Linked DNA regions of Homo sapiens: all the other regions are linked to region 4. The links come from fine-mapping of genetic effects on gene expression. A gene starts in region 4. Each other region holds a variant in brackets. All regions are shown on one strand. Distances are between the middles of the regions.

The links. PIP is the estimated chance that this variant, and not a neighbour inherited with it, causes the effect.
Region 1: its variant is the best candidate, but not a certain one, in a credible set for the expression of TEX2 in liver (GTEx, PIP 0.58).
Region 2: its variant is the best candidate, but not a certain one, in a credible set for the expression of TEX2 in pancreas (GTEx, PIP 0.80).
Region 3: its variant is the best candidate, but not a certain one, in a credible set for the expression of TEX2 in whole blood (TOPMed, PIP 0.70).

Annotation. Positions count from the first base shown.
Region 1 is chr17:64,186,052-64,188,797 of GRCh38, reverse strand. It overlaps TEX2 (testis expressed 2), which reads left to right. Exons shown (of 12, transcript NM_001288732.2): 5 at 383-630. Among named protein-coding and RNA genes, the nearest start is that of SNORA50C, 41 kb to the right of the region's middle. The variant C/G (reference allele first, on the strand shown) is at 1,349.
Region 2 is chr17:64,134,533-64,137,032 of GRCh38, reverse strand. No RefSeq gene overlaps it. Among named protein-coding and RNA genes, the nearest start is that of ERN1, 5.6 kb to the right of the region's middle. The variant G/A (reference allele first, on the strand shown) is at 1,557.
Region 3 is chr17:64,179,792-64,182,537 of GRCh38, reverse strand. All of the region lies in intron 5 of TEX2 (testis expressed 2), which reads left to right. Among named protein-coding and RNA genes, the nearest start is that of SNORA50C, 35 kb to the right of the region's middle. The variant C/T (reference allele first, on the strand shown) is at 1,589.
Region 4 is chr17:64,262,036-64,264,781 of GRCh38, reverse strand. It overlaps TEX2 (testis expressed 2), which reads left to right and starts at 1,522. Exons shown (of 12, transcript NM_001288732.2): 1 at 1,522-1,614. RefSeq lists a silencer at 1,325-1,934.

The DNA.
Region 1 (2,746 bases), 76 kb after region 4:
GTTGCCCAGACTGGAGTGCAGTGGCATGATCTTGGCTCACTGCAAGCTCCACCTCCTGGGTTCACACCATTCTCCTGCCTCAGCCTCCCGAGTAGCTGAGACTACCGGCGCCCACCACCACGCCCGGCTAATTTTTTGTATTTTTAGTAGAGATGGGGTTTCACTGTGTTAGCCAGGATGGTCTCGATCTCCTGACCTCGTGATCCGCCCGCCTCGGCCTCTCAAAGTGCTGGGATTACAGGCGTGAGCCACCATGCCCAGCCCCTTATAAATATTTTTAAACAGTCATTTGATAGCATTGTAGCTGCTTTTCTCAGGGAGTCCGCTTACTTTGCAGTTGTTTTCTTCATTGTGTGAATAGCCCCCGTCTTCTTGGCTCCAGGGCTTTTGCCTGCACACAGCAGACACAACAGTCCGTCCGGGCACCTGACCCACAGCCGCAGCAGCAGCAAAGGCAGTGTGGAGGAGATCATGTCACAGCCAAAGCAGAAGGAGCTGGCAGGCAGCGTGCGGCAGAAGATGCTTCTCGACTACAGCGTGTACATGGGCAGGTGTGTCCCCCAGGAAAGCCGAAGCCCCCAGAGGAGCCCCCTGCAGAGTGCGGAGAGCAGCCCCACAGCTGGGAAGAAGGTAAAGCTGGCTGCTGGGCCGGACCTTTTTCACTTTTCGACTTAGACACATTTCTTCATGCGTAAGTGCTCCGAAGCCCTGTTGTGGGCACTGGGATAACAGTGGTACACAAGACAGAGAAGGACCCTGCCTTTGGGGAACTTGTAATCTACTCAGGAAGACAGCAAGAAACAAGCACCAGGTGGTGGGAAGAATGAAAATAAAGTCAGACAAGGGAGGAGGGGAAGTGGCCAGAACTGCTATTTTATTTATTTATGTATTTATTTATTTTTAATTTTAAAAAGTTTGTACTGTTTTTCTCTGCTATTTTGGATGGGTGGTCAGGAAGGGCCTCTTTGAGGAGGTGACTTTTGGGCACAGACCTGTTGGTCACGGGGGAGTGAGCCATGGTGATGGGTGTGGGAGGAGCACTCCAGGTGGGAAAAGCAGCAACCCAAGGGCCCGCTGTAGGCATGTGCTTGGAATATTCGAGGAACAGCAAGGAGGCCTGGCCGGACAGTGAGCAAGGGAAATGGGGAGGTAGGGAGGCTGGAGGATCAGGATGGGAGGCCATGGGAGGGTTTTGAGCAGGGTATGATGTTGACTGATCTAAGTATAAAAAGATAAGTGGCTCTTGGTGGAGAACTGGCTGTAGAGGGAAAAAAGGAGTGGGAGGTGACTGTCATAGTGAAGGCTGGATCAATGTGAAGGTAGTGACAGTAGGTGGTGAGGAGAGGCT[C/G]GGCTGGGGTGTGCTTGGCAGGAGGCGCTGGCTGGATTTGCTGACGTGAGAGAACGCAGAGGCCAAGATTTGCACTTTGACCTGAGCAACTGGATGATCACTAGGGGTTGTTGCAGAATCACTGGTGATTCAGGTCTCATTCCTCCAAAACCATTGTATTTTCAAATTCTCAGTCTCCTCGGCTATGCCCAGTGCTTTTGAAGATTTACCATGAACATTCTTTACAAAGTGTAACCGGACACGGACTTAGGATCATCTCTGATAAGATAACTCCTGTAAGCTGCCAGATGCCAGGCTCTGTTAGGCACTTTAATAGAATTACTCTGCTCTCTTGAACAGTCCTGCAAACTAGACAGGATTGTCTCCATTTTGTAAGCGGAGAAACTGAGGCTTGATGAAGTTAGGTAGCCTAGTCACACAGTTGCTAAGTGATGGAGTGTGCAAACCTCACCTGAGAACCCAGGGGCCCCTTGGCTCGCTGAGACTATTTTGCTGGGTTATTCTGAAAGCCTGCTTGGCCTGAGGCCTCCTGCCTCTACTTTGCACACTCTTCAGAGTCACAGTCTCTGCCTGGGGGACACTTAACCTCTCTTTCATATCCAGGTGTTTGACCTCTTTTTTTTTGAGACAAGGTCTCGCAGTGTCACCCAGGCTGGAGTGCAGTGTCGTGAACATGGCTCATTGCAACCTCGACCTCCTGGGCTCAAGTGATCCTCTCACCCTCCTGGGCTCAGCCTCCCAAGTAGCTGGAGCTACAGGTGTGTGCCACCATGCCCAGCTAATTTTTGTATTTTTTGTAGAGATGGGGTTTCACCATGTTGCCCAGTCTGGTCTTGAACTCCTGAGCTCAAGAGATGCACCTGCCTCGGCCTCCCAAAGTGCTGAGATTACAGGCGTGAGCCACCGCCCTTGGCTGTGTTTGACCTCTTACAATGACCATGTGTATTTCTGTTCTTAATGAGAAGCAAGCCATTGCTCTTGATCCGTTGATCCTCTTCAGTGTGGAAGAGGTCACTCACCTGATCTGTTTGAATTTGTCAGGGCAATAAAAGACCATATGCCTCTGCTGGCCTGCGACCCACTACCTCTGCACTGAGTCACCCCAGCTTTAGTGGGAAGCAGACCTCCCTCTAGGCAAGAGTGGGGTGATATAAAACTTTTCTACAAATGGTCCTGTTTACCACTGGTGAGTTTCCCCTCCCTCCAAATGCGAGGCTGTCAGCTGTCTGGACTCTCATCAGACTCAAGAAAATCAAGAGGAGAATTGTGCACTGACGTTAAGAAAATTATCCAATAAAATGCTTCCTTTTGAAAGATTTCCCCAAATTAAAAAACAAACCTGATTTTAGAGCTTTGTTTCCTTGGTTTGTGTTACATGTGCATATTGTATGCTATGTT
Region 2 (2,500 bases), 130 kb after region 4:
TTATTATTATTATTATTATTATTATTATTATTATTTTTAGATGAAGTTTTGCTCTTGTCGCCCAGGCTGGAGTGCAATGGCATGATCTCAGCTAACTGCAACCTCTGCCTCCTGGGGTTCAAGTGATTCTCCTGCCTCAGTCTCCCAAGTAGCTGGTACTAAAGGCATCTGCCACCACACCCAGCTAATTTTTGTATTTTTAACAGAGACAGGGTTTCACCATGTTGGCCAGGCTGGTCTCAAACTCCTGACCTCAGGTGATCTGCCTGCCTCGGCCTCCCAAAGTGCTGGGATCACAAGCGTGAGCCACCACACCAGGCCTTCACCATCAGTCTTGTACCTTGGTTATTTCTGTGCATGTCCTGTATCAACCTGAAAATTCTCTAATATTTCCTTATGGCACTAATCCCTGGTACTTGGAAGCCTTCAGTGATTTTTGTTGAATGAATGCATTGTAGTTATCCATGTAGAGGTCAAAGATGAAGTCATCTGCGAAATGAAGCTGACTACATTATGGCTAAAGTGCCTTTCTGCTCTAAAATTTGGTATATAAAAGGCCGGGCGCGGTGGCTCATGCCTGTAATCCCAGCACTTTGGGAGGCTGAGGCGGGTGGATCATGACGTCAGGAGTTCAAGACCAGCCTGGCCAAGATGGTGAAACCCCGCCTCTACTAAAAATACAAAAAATTAGCCAGGCTTGGTGGCAGGCACCTGTAATCCCAGCTACCTGGGAGGCTGAGGCAGAGAATTGCTTGAACCCGGGAGGCAGAGGTTGCAGTGAGCCAAGATCACGCCACTGCACTCTAGCCTGGGCGACAGAAAGACTCTGTCTCAAAAATAAATAATAAAATAAAATAAAATTTGGTATATAAAATATGTTAAATGAGTCCTCCTAGGAAGAAAGGAAAGAGAAAATAGATAAGGTCTACATATTAAGCCTCAAGCAATGTACTGGCTGGCCACAGGGGCTCATGCCTGTAATTCCAACACTTTTTTTTTTTTTTTTTTTTTGAGACAGAGTCTTGCTCTATCGCCCAGGCTGGAGTGCACTGGCACGATCTCGGCTCACTGCAATCTCTGCCTCTGGGGTCCAAGTGATTCTTCTGCCTCAGCCTCCCGAGTAGCTGGGACTACAAGCACGTGCCACCACGCCCGGCTAATTTTTGTATTTTAAGTAGAGATGGGGTTTCACCATATTGGCCAGGCTGGTCTCGAACTCCTGACCTCCTGATCCGCCCTCCCTGGCCTCCCAAAGTGCTGGGATTACAGGCGTGAGCCACCGCACCAGGCCAAATCCCAGCACTCTGGGAGGCTTAGGCAGGCTGATTGCTTGAGCTCATGAGTTTGAGACCAGCCTGGGCAACAAAGTGAGACCCACTCGCCTGGCATCTACAAAATATAAAAAAATTAGCTGGGTGTGATGGTGCCTGTCTGTGGTCCCAGCTACTCCAGAGGCCGAGAAGAGAGGATGGTATGCCCCTGGAGGTTTCAGCCTGGGAGGCAGAGGTTGCAGTGAGCCTAGATCACACCACTGCACTCTAGCCTGGGCAATAGAC[G/A]CAGACCCTGACTCAAACCCCGTCCCTACCCCCACCCCCTGCCCCCCAAATAAACCACACAGAATCTGGAAGGAGGAAAAAAAGCAGAGACACAGGAGGAAAGCCAGAAAATGGTAATATCCAAGGAGGAAAAGTTCAAGAGAAAAGAACCCTTAATATACCTGAATTGAAAAGAGGCCCGGTGGCTGGGGGGAAAAAAACAAACCCAGGAATTAGGTCCAAAGGGATTTTACAAGAGGAAGAATGTTTATGAAGTGCTTGAGAGAAGTTTCCAGAGAGTTCTGTGGAATTAAGCCAGACCTCAGGGGATTAGGACGGCCTGGCCAGTGAGGAAGTGGAGGTACTTTGAGAGATGGCCGTTTCCATCTTGGTGCTGCCTTGGCCCTTTGAGAATATTAATGTATATAAACTGGGGACACGGATACTTTCTGTGGCGGTGTATAGACTTGGCACAAATGCGTGTGAAATACAACACCCAGAGACAAGTGAACAAATAACCAGTCAGGATTAGCCTAAGCTACCCCACAGGGTAGAACCTGGGAGTGGGGTGGTGAGTGATAGGTAGCGGGGCAGAGGCCTTGTCTCTTAAAATTAAATAACATCCACTACATCAGGCAAAGGTCATGGTCTTAGAGTAAAGATAAGACAAGATGATACCATAAAGCATGTAGTTGCACATTTCCAAACAGCAAACAGCCAATAAAAAAGATAATAAGAAATAATCACTTTTTACTCCTTATGGTATAATGTGAAAAAAAAGAAATAATCACTTTTGCAACCTAAGAAAGTGTGTAGTGAGTGGGATTCTGTGGTAAAGGGAAGTTCTTAAACAAGTGTCACAATCTTTTCAAATCCAGTCATCCTAGAACAGGAAAAGCCAAAGTCCTATTTACCTAAAAACCAAAGTGTTCACAGTGAGAACAACTTTTAAAATGTCCCTTAAA
Region 3 (2,746 bases), 82 kb after region 4:
ACAACTCTCAATATACTGAAAACTATTGAATGTACTCTATTTTTAAAAATTATTTTTGTGGTAAAATACATAAAGTTTGCCATCTTAATCATTTTAAAATGTATAGTTCAGTAGAATTGAATACATTCATAATGTTATGCATTGACCCCCACCATTCTCTTCAACTTGTATAATTGAAACTCTATACTCATTAAACAGTAACTCCCCTGTCCCCCTCCTCCCAGCCCCTGGCAACCACCATTCCCTGTCTCTCGGATTTTGACTATCCTAAGTACCTCATATAAGTAGAATTATACAGTATTTGTCTTTTTGTGACTGACTTATTTCACTTAGCCTAATGACCTCAAGATTCATCCATGTGGTAGCGTAAGTCAGAATCGCCTTCCTTTTTGAGGCTGAATCATGCTCCATTGTGTACGTACGCCATTTTGCTTATCCATTCCTCCATCGGTGGGTGCTTGGCTTGCTTCCACATTTTAGCTATTGTGAATGATGCTGCTCTGAACATCAGTGTACACATATCTTGTTTTGAGACCCTGCTTTCAAATTTGTTGGGGTATATAGCCAGAAGTGAAATTAGTGCATCTTAAGGGTAATTCTGTTTAAATTGTTTAAGGAACCGCAATACTGTTTTCCACAGCAGCTATGGAAGGATGGAAAAATTGTATGATCTATGAATTATATCTAAGTAAAACTGTAAAAAAAAAAAAAAATACAAAACCAGCCGGGCATGGTGGCTCACACCTGTAATCTCAGCACTTTGGGAGGCCGAGGCAGGCAGATCACCTGAGGTTGGGAGTTTGAGACCAGCCTGACTACCATGGAGAAGCCCCGTCTGTACTAAAAATACAAAAAATTAGCCAGGCGTGGTGGTGAATGCCTGTAATACCAGCTACTTGGGAGGCTGAGGTAGCCTCCCTTGAACCTGGGAGGCGGAGTTTGCAGTGAGTCGAGATCGCGCCACTGCACTCCAGCCTGGGCGACAGAGCGAGACTCCTTCTCAAAGAATACAAAACCATGTAGCCAGATCTAATTTTGCTTTTTTTTTTTTTTTTTTTTTTTTTTGAGATAGCCTTGCTCTGTGGCCAGGGTGGAGTACAGTGGCACGGTCTCGGCCCACTGCAACCTCTGCCTCCTGGGCTCAAGCGATTCTCCTGCCTCAGCCTCCTGAGTAGCTGGGACTATAGGCACGCACCACCACACCCAGCTAATTTTTGTATTTTTGGTAGAGACGGGACTTCACCATGTTGGCCAAGATTGTCTCAATCTCTTGACTGCGTGATTTGCCCGCCTTGGCCTCCCAAAGTGCTGGGATTACAGGCATGAACCACCACGCCCGGCCTAATTTTGCTTTTTAAAAGTTCTGTATTCTTAAATGTATATATACACTGAAAAGAGACTGAAAGAAAATATAGTAAAACTGTTTTAAATAATGTTTAAAATGTTTTAAATCTGAGTAGCAGGTTTATGGGTGTTTTCTGCAGTGAATATGCATTGTTTTTATAATCAAGGGAAAGAAACACACAGGAGTAGGGTCCTCCGCTGTGTCATCTCCTGGACCACACTGTCCCTTGTGCAACCCCCCTGG[C/T]GGTACACTGGGTGCGGCCAAAAAGGAGTGGGGGCACTACACACTCTTTGTAATAGAAAAACTGGGCTGGCCTCCTGGCCATTTGTAATAGGAAATGTTACACCACAGACTTCAGTAAATCTGTCCTACTTTAGTTTTAGAGGTTAGTTTTAAATAACACATATCCCAAGAGTGACGCAGTTTTGATGGGCTTGCTTCAGCTTCAAACCATTGAATTTTCTCTACACTTATTTGGAAGCCATTTTTGGAAAGTTACCATTTCTTAGTGTGTTTATACAGTTGAGACAGCGAAATGAATATCCTCCACACATTTCATCCTATAGCCAAATGGCAATATTAGGAAATGTATGCACATTGTTTCTTTAAACTCTTAAATTTTTATGACATTCGTTGGGCCTTCCTAGCAGGCTGTTGAATCCAGGTTTTGCTCATAAAAGCTTCTTTGATGCATTATCGATGTTCTGCTCTGGAATTTTTCTTTGTTCCCAATGAGTCTGTGGAGAGAAGCTTATTTTGGAAAAAGGAACTGTTGAAAAAACAACCTGCTTGTCGGTTATTTCAGAAATTTGTTTACCACATCATATGCCATTGGCTTGGACATACATTGTGAAATAGCCTTTGTTTCTTGCTATTTTGTGCTAAAACTGTTTCCTGTGAGTAACTAGGGTTGTAAAGAAAGGCTAATAAAGGGTAGATGCTCCCTCTAGGGAAGGGAAAAAGTAACTTATTCTCTTGTATAACCTACAAATCTAAAATAAGACACGTGGTGTCTTACGTGGGCAGCAACTTAGTACTGTCTGAGGGGCCAGGTGGTCATTGCCCTTGGATGAGTGTTTATGCAGAAGTCTGTATAAATAATCGGATGGGACTCAAAGACAGTAACCTCAGAAAAGCTGAATGAATTACCCTTGGGGCTGGGAAGGAGATGTTCAGTCAGAGAAAAAAGGGATTCAAAAAAACAGTGCAAGTTATGGCATGGCCAAGCATTCACCGCTGCAGACTCTTGCCCTTCCATCCAGGACCTAGTGGTGGAAAATGTCTTGGTTAATGACAGAAAACGTCACAGCACTCGAAAAGCCCAGAGAGAATAATCCATGTCCATTAAGAAGGGTGAAGCAGATCCATGTCTTCTGAAATGGGCTGACCAGCATGCTTTCT
Region 4 (2,746 bases):
ACTCAGTTCTTGGCATGACTTATTCTGTTATGAGTGTCTTAGTAGGTGACCTCCTCCCTTACTAGCAAGTCTCCCAACCATATTACTAATTCTGAGGATGAAAGGAGTTTGGCTTTCATTTTGCCAATTGAATTTGAATTTCATGACTATGATAGACTCAAAACACGCACCTGAGTGTGGTCCTTGTACCACTTGCATTAGAATCACCTGGAGGGAGGGGTGTCGAAGGCCATCTCAGACTTACTGAATTACAGGTTCTGGGGTGGGACTTAGAGATCTTCATGTTAAAACCCTCCAGGATGATCTGACGTTGAAGATCTGACATTTGGGACCCACTAATGCAGGAGACACACTGACACATCTGTTTGTTGTCTTGGTCCTTTCTTGTGGTGGGTGGGAAGTGCAGAGGGGCAAGGACTACGGGGGAAGGGGGAACTCTCCCTATGTGCCAGTGCTTCTGCCAGCCAACCCAGGTTCGCAGAAGATAAATGCACAATGGGCATTGCCATCCCAGGAAGCTCATTCTAAGTGAGAATTTACCTCGAGAAGTCACTTTACCTCTCTGAGCCTCAGATATTGCCTCTCTAAAAATGAGTAGTTAATACTATATAAGTTCTAAGCTCTAAGAACTCGTGGCCAGGCGCGGTGGCTCACGCCTGTAATCCCAGTACTTTGGGAGGCTGGGTCCGGCGGATCACGAGGTCAAGAGACCGAGACCATCCTGGCCAACATGGTGAAACCCCGTCTCTACTAAAAATACAAAAATTAGCTGGGCATGGTGGCACGCGCCTGTAATCCCAGCTACTCGGAAGGCTGAGGCAGGAGAATCGCTTTAACCCAGGAGGCGGAGGTTGCAGTGAGCCCAGATGACGGCACTGCACTCCAGCCTGGCGACAGAGCGAGACTCCGTCTCAAACAAAAAAACTAGTAACAGAGTTAGTTCAGGATAGGATGTGGTAGTGTGGTAGTCAGGTGGGGGAAGTACATAATGCGGGAAACTGGGAATTTGCCTTTTTAAATCAATGTCTGCAGTTGGATGGGGATAGATACGTCTGATGGCCCTCTAAAATGCAAATCGAGTGAATTTGCCCAGGGGGATACCCCTGGTTCTCCGCGCCTCAGTCACCCCACCTCAACCCCCAGCCCTCGTCTCAAGGGCACTTGTTGCTGCTAGACTGCAGGAAGAGGAAATTAAGAAGTGCAAAGAGCTGGGGACAGTGTGCAGCCCCGTTGGGAGAGTGAAGCTTTTGTCCCCCTCACCTGGGGCTCTTCCAGGTAACCCTCCCCACCACTCCTCTCCCTAGCTCCAAGGGCGGTGGCCCCTTTAACAGACCTGACAAATCGCTCCCCCATTTCCGCGGCCTCACCTCGGCGCGCGGTAGAACTGGATTGGTTGGGCCTGGCGTGCCGTTTGCTCCGCCCCCGCGCCCTCTGGTTGGCGGCGGCGGCCGCGGGCGCGGGGCGGGTCCGCCGGCGGGGCGGGGCGGCGTGTGCCCGGGGGCGGGCGGGCGGCAGGGCAGCAGGACCGCGGCCGGTGCCCCAGCCGAAGCCGGAGTCGCGCGGCCGGGAGCACGGGCGCCGGCATAGTACAATGAGGCAGCCAGCGGATCTTGGGTGAGCAGTCTCAGGGCCAGGCGGGGGCGGTGGAGGGAGCGCCCCGCGGATAAGGCCCGGGCTGGGCGCGGATCGACCCCGCGGGCTTCAAAGTACCGGTCGGGTCCGGCGGCCCTTGGCGTGGCGGGGCTCGGCCCCCCACCCCGCTGTCATGGTTCAGGTATTGAAGGGGACGCCCACCCGCGACACCCCCGGGCAATCCCTTCCTTCGGGGCCCCGCCGGATGGCTCGGGCTCGACTCCGGCGGGAGGAGCTGCCGGCCCCGTCCCCTCAGCCTGCGGTCCCCGGCCCCGGGCAGGGAGGCACCGTCACGCGCAAACTAGAGGAAAACGGCTTGCAATTTTATGAATGGGGCCCCGGGTTCCTGCCGCCCCCCTCACCGGCGACGCGAAATGCTTGAAAGTCGAGAACCGCAGTTACTTTTACTCGAATCTGTCAGAGGTTGTATGCGCCCCGGTGGTTTTTCTCCAACTCCTGGAGAACGCGGGTGGCGGTGGGGTGGTTTGTGTGCTTTAGCAGGGAGGCGGCGGCGTGCCGAAATCCGGGGGATCGGAAGGTTAACAAGTGACATTGGGCTGAGGCCTAGCGCCAGGTGCCTTGCGGGGAGGCGGTGTGGCCGTGGACGCCGTCGCTGCTGGCTGCTGAGCACGGAAACCATACGGTGGAACCGGAGAAGGCGGGGAACGGCTGGCCACATTGCACCACACGCTGCCTAGAGCGTACGGCTGCCATGGGAGTTGGTGCAGGGGAGTCTTCCCCTTTTGAAAACGATTTTTGGAAAACTTAGCCCCTCAGTGGGTTGATAGTTACTTAAACCATCGGTTGTTATGGTTACTGGGCGTCAAATGTAAGGGCAAAGTCTGTTTCCACCCTCGCTCTTTCTCCAGAGCTATGAAGTACTTTGTCACTGTGTTTTACAGACACTGTCCAGGGAGGACATCCTTTTTTAGAGTTGAGGGAAAATTGTGGGCTCCTTGAGGGCAGGGCTCGTGCCACGTTCACGTTTGAAGTGCCAGCGTCTTCACACCATCACCGCTCTGCACATGCATTAAAAGGAATGAGGCTTTTACATGTTTTGAGGATTCTCAGAGGATTCAGAGGAGTCATTTCAGGAGCCAGGTGTAAGCTGGAG